Linked DNA regions of Homo sapiens. The protein of the gene in region 3 purifies or fractionates together with the protein of the main gene of each other region. This does not show direct contact. Each region holds a gene or a part of one and is shown on either strand. Other genes may lie near its edges. The genes, in order: MFSD8, PCDHGC4 and GAS6.

Region 1 (3,653 bases), on a different chromosome or scaffold from region 3:
GATGTCAGAGTGAGACCCTGTCTCAAAAAAAAAATAAAAATAAAAATAAACAATAGTGCCTTTTCTAAGCTAACATTTTCTATTTTTCTGAAAGTATTTTATTTTCTGAGTTGTAGTCATTTGGTTCTCCCCTTAAGTTCATCATGATATGTAAACCCTTTTAAAGTGGTAGAATACTGAGTGGTCTATATAGAACGGAAGAATTTATAACAGGTTTATTGAGATAATTGTCTATCATCTTTTGTGTTTTTATTATCTTCTTTATGCATTTGACTCTTGTGCCTAGTTTTTTTAAAAAAAATGATTTACAGCGCTAATGGCTGTTTAACGTATAGGGTAGCATAAGTCTAAAGAATTCTATTTACAAGAATTAAAGAATAGCTTATATTATTTTTCATGATGTTATTGCTATATGCGTATATAGTGTGTGTGATTATCTTCTTACCAAGGTTTATATGAACCAAAAATTTCCAGTCATTCTTAAAAATGAGCCTCCCAAGCATTTTTCCCTTGTGTACAGTCTATTGTTAGCACATTTAATTGTATTGTCAGAAGTTTGAATCCCTTACTATAAGTAATAGTGTTATAAAACTTATACGTTAGAATTGTTTTTATTTTTTGATAGGAAATCTTACATGGTATGACAAATGTATTTAGTTTTAAACTTTTCTTGGATAACAATTCTTAAAGCACTGTACCTTTTTCTGCAGATTGATCCGACAGCTGATACAAGTTTTTTGGGCTGGGTTATTGCTTCATATAGTCTTGGCCAAATGGTAGCTTCACCTATATTTGGTTTATGGTCTAATTATAGACCAAGAAAAGAGCCTCTTATTGTCTCCATCTTGATTTCCGTGGCAGCCAACTGCCTCTATGCATATCTCCACATCCCAGCTTCTCATAATAAATACTACATGCTGGTTGCTCGTGGATTGTTGGGAATTGGAGCAGGTAAGGTTGTATGTATATGTTTGGTTGTGTCATATTCACATTCATTCTGACATTTATGGCTCACTTTTAACTGGTCTCATCCCCTTTTAAACTCATATTTCACAGTTCAACATACATGTTTCTCATTGTAAACAAATATTTTTCTTATCATTTTGCCTTTGCTCATGATGTTCTCATTACCTATAGTTTCTCTTCTGTTCTCATCATTCTTCATCCTTCAAGATTCAGTTTAAACCAGGTGTGGTGGCACGTGCCTATAATACCAGCTACTCAGGAGACTGAGGTAGCAGAATCTCTTGAGCCCAGGAGTTCGAGGCCAGCCTGGGTAACATAGGGAGACCTCCATCTAAAAAAAAAAAAACCCAAAACAAAAATAGATCCAATTCAAGCTCCACATTTTCCACAAAGCCATCTTGGGCTACCCTGCCCCTTGAGAGATTTTTTTCTTCTCTGACATGTCTCTGGCACTTGCTTATAGTATTGTACTGTTTCTATCCTTTCTCACTAACCAGATAATAATTTTTTTTTTTTTTTGAAACGGAGTCTTACTCTGTCACCCAGACTGGAATGCAGTGGCGCAATCTTGGCTCACTGCATCCTCTACCTGCCTGGGTTCAAGCAATTCTCCTGCCTCAGCCTCCCGAGTAGCTGGGATTACAGGCGTCTGCCACTGCACCTGGCTAATTTTTGTATTTTTAGTAGAGACGCAGTTTCACCATCTTGGCCAGGCTGGTCTTGAACTCCTGACCTCGTGATCCACTCGCCTCGGCCTCCCAAAGTGCTGGGATTACAGGCATGAGCCACCATTCCCAACCTAAACTTTTTGCAATTAGAAAGAATTAATGATACTTTAAAAATATCCTATGCCCCCTAACAGAGTCTCTTGAATGTAATGTACTCAATGAAAATTTTCAGTAAAATTGTTAGTGCATTTTTTTCTGTTTCTTATATTACATGTCTATGCATACAGAGTTTGTAATATTGTAATACTTTTCTTTTAAAAACAGTTGTAGTAATCAATGGTATGCCATTCACTCAGTGCTTTTTTAGTACTAAGTAAGTTTGATATTCTTTTTTTTTTTTTTTCACTGTTGCCCAGGCTAGAGTGCAGTGGCGTGATCTTGGCTCATTGCAACCTCAGCATCCTGGGTTCAAGCAGTTCTTCTGCCTCAGCCTCCTGAGTAGTTGGGACTACAGGTGGATAATTTTTGAATTTTTAATAGAGACGGGGTTTCACCGTGTTGGCCAGGCTGGTCTTGAACTCCTGACCTCAAAATGATCCACCTACCTCAACCTCTGAAAGTGCTGGGGTTACAGATGTGAGCCACTGTGCCCGGCTTGGTTTTCTTATGATACCATTTTTTCACTCATTGATATCTTTAACTGTTTTCATATTACCAAAACTAGTATGGTCCATTAATTGATGCATTTGCTTAATAAAAATACCTTACATGCTTTGTGTGATCATAAAGAGGAAGCAGTGACTGTACTGTTGACCAAGATTTCTTCTTCTGTATAAAGTCAAATTGGATTGAATTTTATAAGCTGAATGATACTTTCTTTTACTTTGGATTATTGTGTCTTGTTTTTAAGGAAATGTAGCAGTTGTTAGATCATATACTGCTGGTGCTACTTCCCTTCAGGAAAGAACAAGTTCCATGGCAAACATAAGCATGTGTCAAGCATTAGGTTTTATTCTAGGTCCAGGTAGGTGTTCTTCACATGTCATTACTTGAATTTGAATTGGGAAAACTTTTGAGGCTTAAATATTCAGTGTAACCCAAGTATAAAAACTCATAGCTGAAGGGAAAGGGAGGAAAGCTAATTTTTTTTTTAATCCAGGAATGAGGCTACACTCATTTTATCTTGATGCCAATCCACTAAATTAAGTGCTATTAGTCCCCTTTTATAGTTGAGAGTGCCAGTGCATAGAGAATCTAAGTAAATTGTCCAAGGTCACCCTTTTGCTGAGTGTTAAAAAAATTAGTGAGGCCATGCGTGGTGGTCCACACCTGTAATCTCAGCACTTTGGGGGTCTGTGGAAGGCAGATCACCTGAGGTCAGGAGTTTGAGACCAGCCTGGCCAACATGGTGAAACCCCATCTCTACTAAAAATACAAAAATTAGCCAGGTGTGGTGGCGGGCACCTGTAATCCCAGCTACTTGGGAGGCTGAGGCAGGGGAATCGCTTGAACTCGGAGGCAGAGGTTGCAGTGAGCTGAGATCACATCATTGCACTCCAGCTTGGGCAACAAGCGCGAGACTCTGTCTCAAAAAAAATTAATGAGATTTAGTATTTCCTCAAGGCAAATTAATTTTCTGCTGAGTAAAGAATCAGTCATTTTCATGCCTAGAATAATATTGAAAAACCATATAATTGGTCCATATTTTGAATATTGAAGTTATGAATATTATCAGTTTGAATCCAACTCAGCTTACTTCATCATTAACACCCCATCTCCCACCCCCAGTTTCCATTACGTTCCTCTATTTAGCCAAAAAGAAAAGGCTCAACAGAAGGGAATCTAATTCACTGTTCACCAAAATCTACTATTTCAGTTTTGTACCCTGAAACAAATACAAGCACAAATGTAGAATAATTGAACTTGAATACTATATTGTAAAGTACATGAGGACATGGTTTGAGTCTTTATTTACCAGTCTACCCTCAGTATCTAGCATAATACCTGGTATAGACTTAT
Region 2 (2,376 bases), on a different chromosome or scaffold from region 3:
GAGAGGAGGAAGTGGGCAGCTGCTCCCTCCCACTCAACCCCTCTCCCCCGCCCCCAGAAAGCTCTCAGCTCCGGGGATTTGCGACATGAAATGGGGGCTGTAGAAACCTGAGCGCTGGTGCGTGAAGAGAAAAACCGAGGCGCATCCCGGCTCTCCCCTCCCGTGTGCCCTCCTCCTCTTATGCCGGCTTGAAAATATTTCCTGTCTCTCTATTTCTCAATCCCTGGTTGATGTCCCAGGATTACTCAGCCTCTCCGGCTTTAGTCACTCTCGCTACCCGCTCCCAGGGTCCAGGGTGGAGGCAGAGGGAGGCTGGGAGAGAAGCTCTACTGCCAGCTGGGCCTGGGCTGGCCTGGGCATCCCTGAGGTTTTAACTGTCTCCTAACCACAGAGGATCTCAGGGCCTCCAGCAGCGAGCCCCAATGAGTCAAACTCTTGTTTCCTCCTCTCCCACCCCCGACCCAGTCAGGGCAGGTGAGGGGTAGAGGTGATGGCATGCTGGATGTGACGGTGTTGATGATGTATTGCACAGGATGAAGCACCATCTCATTTAGTCCTCACAGCAGCCTTCACAGTGCGTACAAATCAGCTGGCAATTCCGAGAGGCTGCATTCTAAACAAGTTCCTGGGTGATGCTGAGCCAGGGCCAGAGTGTGGACTTCTCTGGGCCCCAGTTTCTTCTTCTGTACAGTGGGACGTTGGACTGGAGGTGCTGTCTGATGTCACCTAGCTGTGGCACTCTGAGCCTGTGCCTAAAGTGTCCCTGAGATGTCTAGTCCCCGAGATCATCATCTCCTCAGCTTCATAGAGCCGAGCTCTTCTCCATCTTCTCTCTACCTCCCATTCACTCAGAACAGGGATAAGGTCCAAGCTGCTGGTGGTGATGGTGACTGACTGTCCCTTCCAGCATGCGCTTAGGTACACTTGGGCCTGAATGCCCCTCTAACAAATGCTACCGGGTATGGCCTTGGTCCTTCTAACACTTGGTTCCCTCATCTGTAAAATGAGGGTCATACCACATAGCTGGCTGGGCTGTTATGTAGAGGTTAAAAGTGATTGTGCATGTGAAGCATCCAGCAGAGTGCCTGGCACACAGTAGGTGCTCAAATGCTGTTTTGAAATACAAAAATTAGCTGGGCTAGTGGTGTGCACCTGTAATCTCAGCTACTCAGGAGGTTGAGGCAGGAGAATCACTTGAGCCCAGGAGGCAGAGGTTGCAGTGAGCCGGGATCGCGCCACTGCACTCCAGGCTGGGCGACAGAGCAGGACTCCATCTTAAAAAAAAAAAAAAAAAAATGCTGTTTTGAAATGGAGGCTTGGAAGAGCACTCTTCACCCCCACCCCACACACTTACTAACGGAACTACCGAATCTCTACTCGTGCCAGGCCTTGCTTGGCAAAGGCTAGGGGCATGTAAAGCCATGGTTTCATGGCTGCTGCCCTCCAGGAGCCCATGGTCTAGTGTGGGAGTCAGAGGCTCCCTTGAGAAAGCCAGGGCAAGGAACTGAGAGCCCGTGTCACAGCCCTGAGAGAAATACCAGCGAATGTGTTTTGAGCACTTACATCTACCAGGCACTATTTTACGTACCTGACATACATTTTCTTATTTAGCATTCACTAAAACCAGAAGAGGTGGTTACCATTATCATCCCCATTTTGCAGATGAGAAAACTGAAGTGGCATAAGGAGGTTAGGTAGACTTGCCCAGGATCACAGTGAGTAAGGAAAGGAGCTAGGAATCAAACCTAGACTTTCTCACTCCAGAGCCTCTTAACCTCTACCCTCAACTCTTGTGAAGAGAGACTACCTTGGTGACCCCTATATTCCCAGTGCTCAGCGTGGTCAAGGCCCAGGGTGCTGTATAGGCATTCATTAACTGCTGGGGATATAAGACAGTGACTGTTGAGGACCCTAAGTTTAGCTCCCACCTGATCTTCCTCTGTCTCTGCAGAAGCTGCTGATGGGAGCTCCACCCTGGGAGGGGGTGCCGGCACCATGGGATTGAGCGCCCGCTACGGACCCCAGTTCACCCTGCAGCACGTGCCCGACTACCGCCAGAATGTCTACATCCCAGGCAGCAATGCCACACTGACCAACGCAGCTGGCAAGCGGGATGGCAAGGCCCCAGCAGGTGGCAATGGCAACAAGAAGAAGTCGGGCAAGAAGGAGAAGAAGTAACATGGAGGCCAGGCCAAGAGCCACAGGGCGGCCTCTCCCCAACCAGCCCAGCTTCTCCTTACCTGCACCCAGGCCTCAGAGTTTCAGGGCTAACCCCCAGAATACTGGTAGGGGCCAAGGCCATGCTCCCCTTGGGAAACAGAAACAAGTGCCCAGTCAGCACCTACCCCTTCCCCCCCAGGGGGTTGAATATGCAAA
Region 3 (3,653 bases):
CACCTGGGCCAAGAGGGACCTGACCCGGGGAGACCACCTGATCCTCACCTGGGCCAAGAGGGTCCCAACTTCAGAGAGACCACCTGATCCACACCTGAGCCAAGAGGGTCCCAACCTCAGAGAGACCACCTGATCCTCACCTGAGCCATGAGGGACCTGATCTCAAGGAGACCATCTGATCCTCACCTGGGCCAAGAGGGACCTGACCTCAGGGAGTCCACCTGATCCTCACCTGGGCCAAGAGGGACCTGACCTCAGGGAGTCCACCTGATCCTCACCTGGGCCAAGAGGGTCCCAATCTCAGGGAGGCCACCTGATCCTCACCTGGGCCAAGAGGGACCTGACCTCGGGGAGACCACCTGATCCTCACCTGAGCCAAGAGGGTCCCAATCTCAGGGAGACCCCCTGATCCACACCTGAGCCAAGAAGGTCCCAATCTCAGGGAGACCACCTGATCCTCACCTGAGCCAAGAGGGACCTGACCTCAAGGAGACCACCTGATCCACACCTGAGCCAAGAGGGTCCCAACCTCAGAGAGTCCCTGCTCATCATCTGGGCCAGGAGGGCCCTCGATGCATCAATGTGGTCACCAAAACCTTTCCTCATAGAAAACCTGTAAAGTCTAATGCTAGATACACTATATTCCTGAGCTTCAGAAGAATATCCTTCTTCCTGTGTGAAAACACCTTTCAGGTATTTGGGTTTGAACTGAGTCACAAAAACATGGTACAAATTCGGGTCAGCTGGGTTTGGGCAGCAGCTAGAGAGGGTGGAATTGGGGAGGGGTCCTCATGAGGTACCCCTGCTGGGGAAGGGCCTGTCTTGGTGGGGTGCTGCGGCCGCTGTGAGTCACTGGGCGGGACTACACTGCAACACCGCTCCCCCAGGTGACCTCGCCTCAGGCCACCTGCCCTGGGCCCCTCCTCCCCGTGGCTCCATCCCCTGCAACACCGCTCCCCCAGGCGACCTCGCCTCAGGCCACCTGCCCCGGGCCCCTCCTCCCCGTGGCTCCATCCCCTGCAACACCACTCCCCCAGGTGACCTCGCCTCAGGCCACCTGCCCCGGGCCCCTCCTCCCCGTGGCTCCATCCCCTGCAACACCGCTCCCCCAGGTGACCTCGCCTCAGGCCACCTGCCCCGGGCCCCTCCTCCCCATGGCTCCATCCCCTGCAACACCGCTCCCCCAGGCGACCTCGCCTCAGGCCACCTGCCCCGGGCCCCTCCTCCCCATGGCTCCATCCCCTGCAACACCACTCCCTCCAGGCGACCTCGCCTCAGGCCACCTGCCCCGGGCCCCTCCTCCCCATGGCTCCATCCCCTGCAACACCGCTCCCCCAGGCGACCTCGCCTCAGGCCACCTGCCCTGGGGCCCTCCTCCCCGGGGCTCCATCCCTGAAACTGCTTCTGCTTCCTTTGCTTTCTGTAGCTTTGCTGAGAACAGCCTCCTGCTCTTGGAGATACTGCTCCTTTAAGAGGTTGGGAAAAATGGAGCGAGGCATTGCTTTGCAGGATGGAAATACAAGTCTACAATGTTTCTGAAGGGCAAGACGTGCTTTCCACCTTTCTTCCCAACGTTTCCTTCTGCAAGCCCAGTATGGTGAGGGAGGCCCAGCGCTGTGGGCGGGAGCCTGGTTGCTTACAGGCCCTCTCGCTCCACGGATGGGGATGTGGGGTGGGCACGTTTTACCGCTGCCCACAGCTGCCCAAGTGCAGGTCTGACCAGGACCCCTCAGGTTGCCCATGGGGCTGGGGTCCAGGTGGTCAGGACGTCTCTGGCAAGGGGCAGCTCCCGTGAGGTCACCTGGACCCTTGGCATGCATGGCCGCACTGACCAGCAGGCCCTGGGAGCCAGGGCTCAGGGACCGCAGCGTCCACGCCGTCCTACAGGGAAGGGTGGGCGGGCGGCGCCTGGCCTGGCCACGGCCCGGGAGACACGTACGGCGGGAGCTCTGGGCTGTGGTGCGGGTTCAGTGGCGGCCTCCTCCCCTGGTGGGGCACCCTGCGTGTAGCGTCAAGCAGCCCTGGCTTCTGTTCCCCACTCTGCTCGGGATAAACAGCATGGCCTCCAGACACAGCCCAGGGTCCCCTGGGGCTGAGAACCACGGGTTCTACCTGAGCCAGGGTGACCAAACTCAGGGAGACCAAACTGACAGGTTGCACTCAAGGCCCCTTTCTGAGGGAGCCAGGCTGAAACGTGATGAAATAGCAGAGAGGCCTAGAGCACCACAGTGAGCCCCCAGAGCATGAACTAAACGGGGCAGGGGTCCCCGTCCCCCGGAGCATGAACTAAACGGGGCAGGGGTCCCCGTCCCCCGGAGCATGAACTAAACGGGGCAGGGGTCCCCGTCCCCCGGAGCATGAACTAAACGGGGCAGGGGTCCCCGTCCCCCGGAGCATGAACTAAACGGGGCAGGGGTCCCCGTCCCCCGGAGCATGAACTAAACGGGGCAGGGGTCCCCGTCCCCCGGAGCATGAACTAAACGGGGCAGGGGTCCCCGTCCCCCGGAGCATGAACTAAACGGGGCAGGGGTCCCCGTCCCCCGGAGCATGAACTAAACGGGGCAGGGGTCCCCGTCCCCCGGAGCATGAACTAAACGGGGCAGGGGTCCCCGTCCCCCGGAGCATGAACTAAACGGGGCAGGGGTCCCCGTCTCCCGGAGCATGAACTAAACGGGGCAGGGGTCCCCGTCCTGCCGGCACGCAGCAGATGCAGGCCCCAGAGCTCATCTCCTAACGGTTGCATAAGCGAGTGACAGCTGAGTCTGGCTCAGGGAGAACCCCGTGAGGCCTGGAAGGGGTGGCTGCCGCACACTCACTGTCTGCCACATGCCATGGTTGATGACCGGGCCGCTGCTGGTGACACGGCCGACACCGTTGTAGCGCAGCTGCAGCTCCAGCCGGCCGGCTCTCAGGGCCAGCACGATCCAGGTGCTGTCCTGGTGGCCTCCGGCAAAGAGGAGGATGCCCTCGGGGTCAAAGGTCCGGAAGTCAAACTCAGCTACCAGCCTGGGCACCCACAGGAGAAATGAGTCAGCACTGGGCACAGGCAGATGCCCGGCCCCTCCCTGCTGGCCGAACCCTGGCCCGGGCCCTGTGAAGCCAGTGTCTTGGCCATTCTAAGTTGTGTTGCCTCCTGTGGACACCTCCTCACCTGGTGGGCTGCAGCCTCTTGAAGCGCAGTCGGATCACGGGGGTCCCACTGAACATCCGGCCCAGGTACAAGGACTTCACACTCTTGGCCACGCTGAAGGGCACGCACGGCAAGATGTCCTGCCACGGACGGGGGCCACGCCGGTCGGGGATGTGGCCTTCACTCCTGCTCCCCTGAGCCCCACGCCCCGGCCGCGCAGCGGGTCCACTGTCCCTCCTGTGCCTCGGGAGTGGCCACCCCGCCTCTAGCTGCTGAGACCCCAGAGGCTGTCACACCTGCCCCACTGGGACTCCCAGGTGAAGGGCGGGCTTGCAGCAGCCGCTTCCCACAGGGCTTCTCGGGGGTCCCCGTCATCTCCTTCCCTGCTCATTTCCCTTGACCCTTTATTTTTAAATTATGAAATATTTCAAGCATACAAAAATTACAGAGAATCATTAAAAAGTATACACTATTATGAAATAGATATGGATGCCTTGAAGATGGCTGTCCTGGAAAGTTCCCT

The links.
Region 1: the proteins of GAS6 (region 3) and MFSD8 fractionate together in Homo sapiens (co-fractionation; one large-scale study listed by BioGRID). This does not show direct contact.
Region 2: the proteins of GAS6 (region 3) and PCDHGC4 purify together in Homo sapiens (co-immunoprecipitation; one large-scale study listed by IntAct). This does not show direct contact.

Annotation. Positions count from the first base shown.
Region 1 is NC_000004.12:127,941,050-127,944,702, reverse strand, and holds part of MFSD8 (major facilitator superfamily domain-containing protein 8), read left to right. Parts: intron 1-710; coding exon 711-951; intron 952-2,544; coding exon 2,545-2,658; coding exon of another isoform or gene 2,659-2,664; intron 2,665-3,653. UniProt on the Homo sapiens protein: Outward-rectifying chloride channel involved in endolysosomal chloride homeostasis, membrane fusion and function. Conducts chloride currents up to hundreds of picoamperes.
Region 2 is NC_000005.10:141,508,996-141,511,371, forward strand, and holds part of PCDHGC4 (protocadherin gamma-C4 isoform 1 precursor), read left to right. Parts: intron 1-1,951; coding exon 1,952-2,178; 3' UTR 2,179-2,376. Other genes in the region: PCDHGA1 (protocadherin gamma-A1 isoform 1 precursor), read left to right, coding at 1,952-2,178; PCDHGA2 (protocadherin gamma-A2 isoform 1 precursor), read left to right, coding at 1,952-2,178; PCDHGA3 (protocadherin gamma-A3 isoform 1 precursor), read left to right, coding at 1,952-2,178; PCDHGB1 (protocadherin gamma-B1 isoform 1 precursor), read left to right, coding at 1,952-2,178; PCDHGA4 (protocadherin gamma-A4 isoform 1 precursor), read left to right, coding at 1,952-2,178; PCDHGB2 (protocadherin gamma-B2 isoform 1 precursor), read left to right, coding at 1,952-2,178; PCDHGA5 (protocadherin gamma-A5 isoform 1 precursor), read left to right, coding at 1,952-2,178; PCDHGB3 (protocadherin gamma-B3 isoform 1 precursor), read left to right, coding at 1,952-2,178; PCDHGA6 (protocadherin gamma-A6 isoform 1 precursor), read left to right, coding at 1,952-2,178; PCDHGA7 (protocadherin gamma-A7 isoform 1 precursor), read left to right, coding at 1,952-2,178; and 11 more. UniProt on the Homo sapiens protein: Potential calcium-dependent cell-adhesion protein. May be involved in the establishment and maintenance of specific neuronal connections in the brain.
Region 3 is NC_000013.11:113,829,483-113,833,135, forward strand, and holds part of GAS6 (growth arrest-specific protein 6 precursor), read right to left. Parts: intron 3,271-3,653; coding exon 3,152-3,270; intron 3,007-3,151; coding exon 2,817-3,006; intron 1-2,816. UniProt on the Homo sapiens protein: Ligand for tyrosine-protein kinase receptors AXL, TYRO3 and MER whose signaling is implicated in cell growth and survival, cell adhesion and cell migration.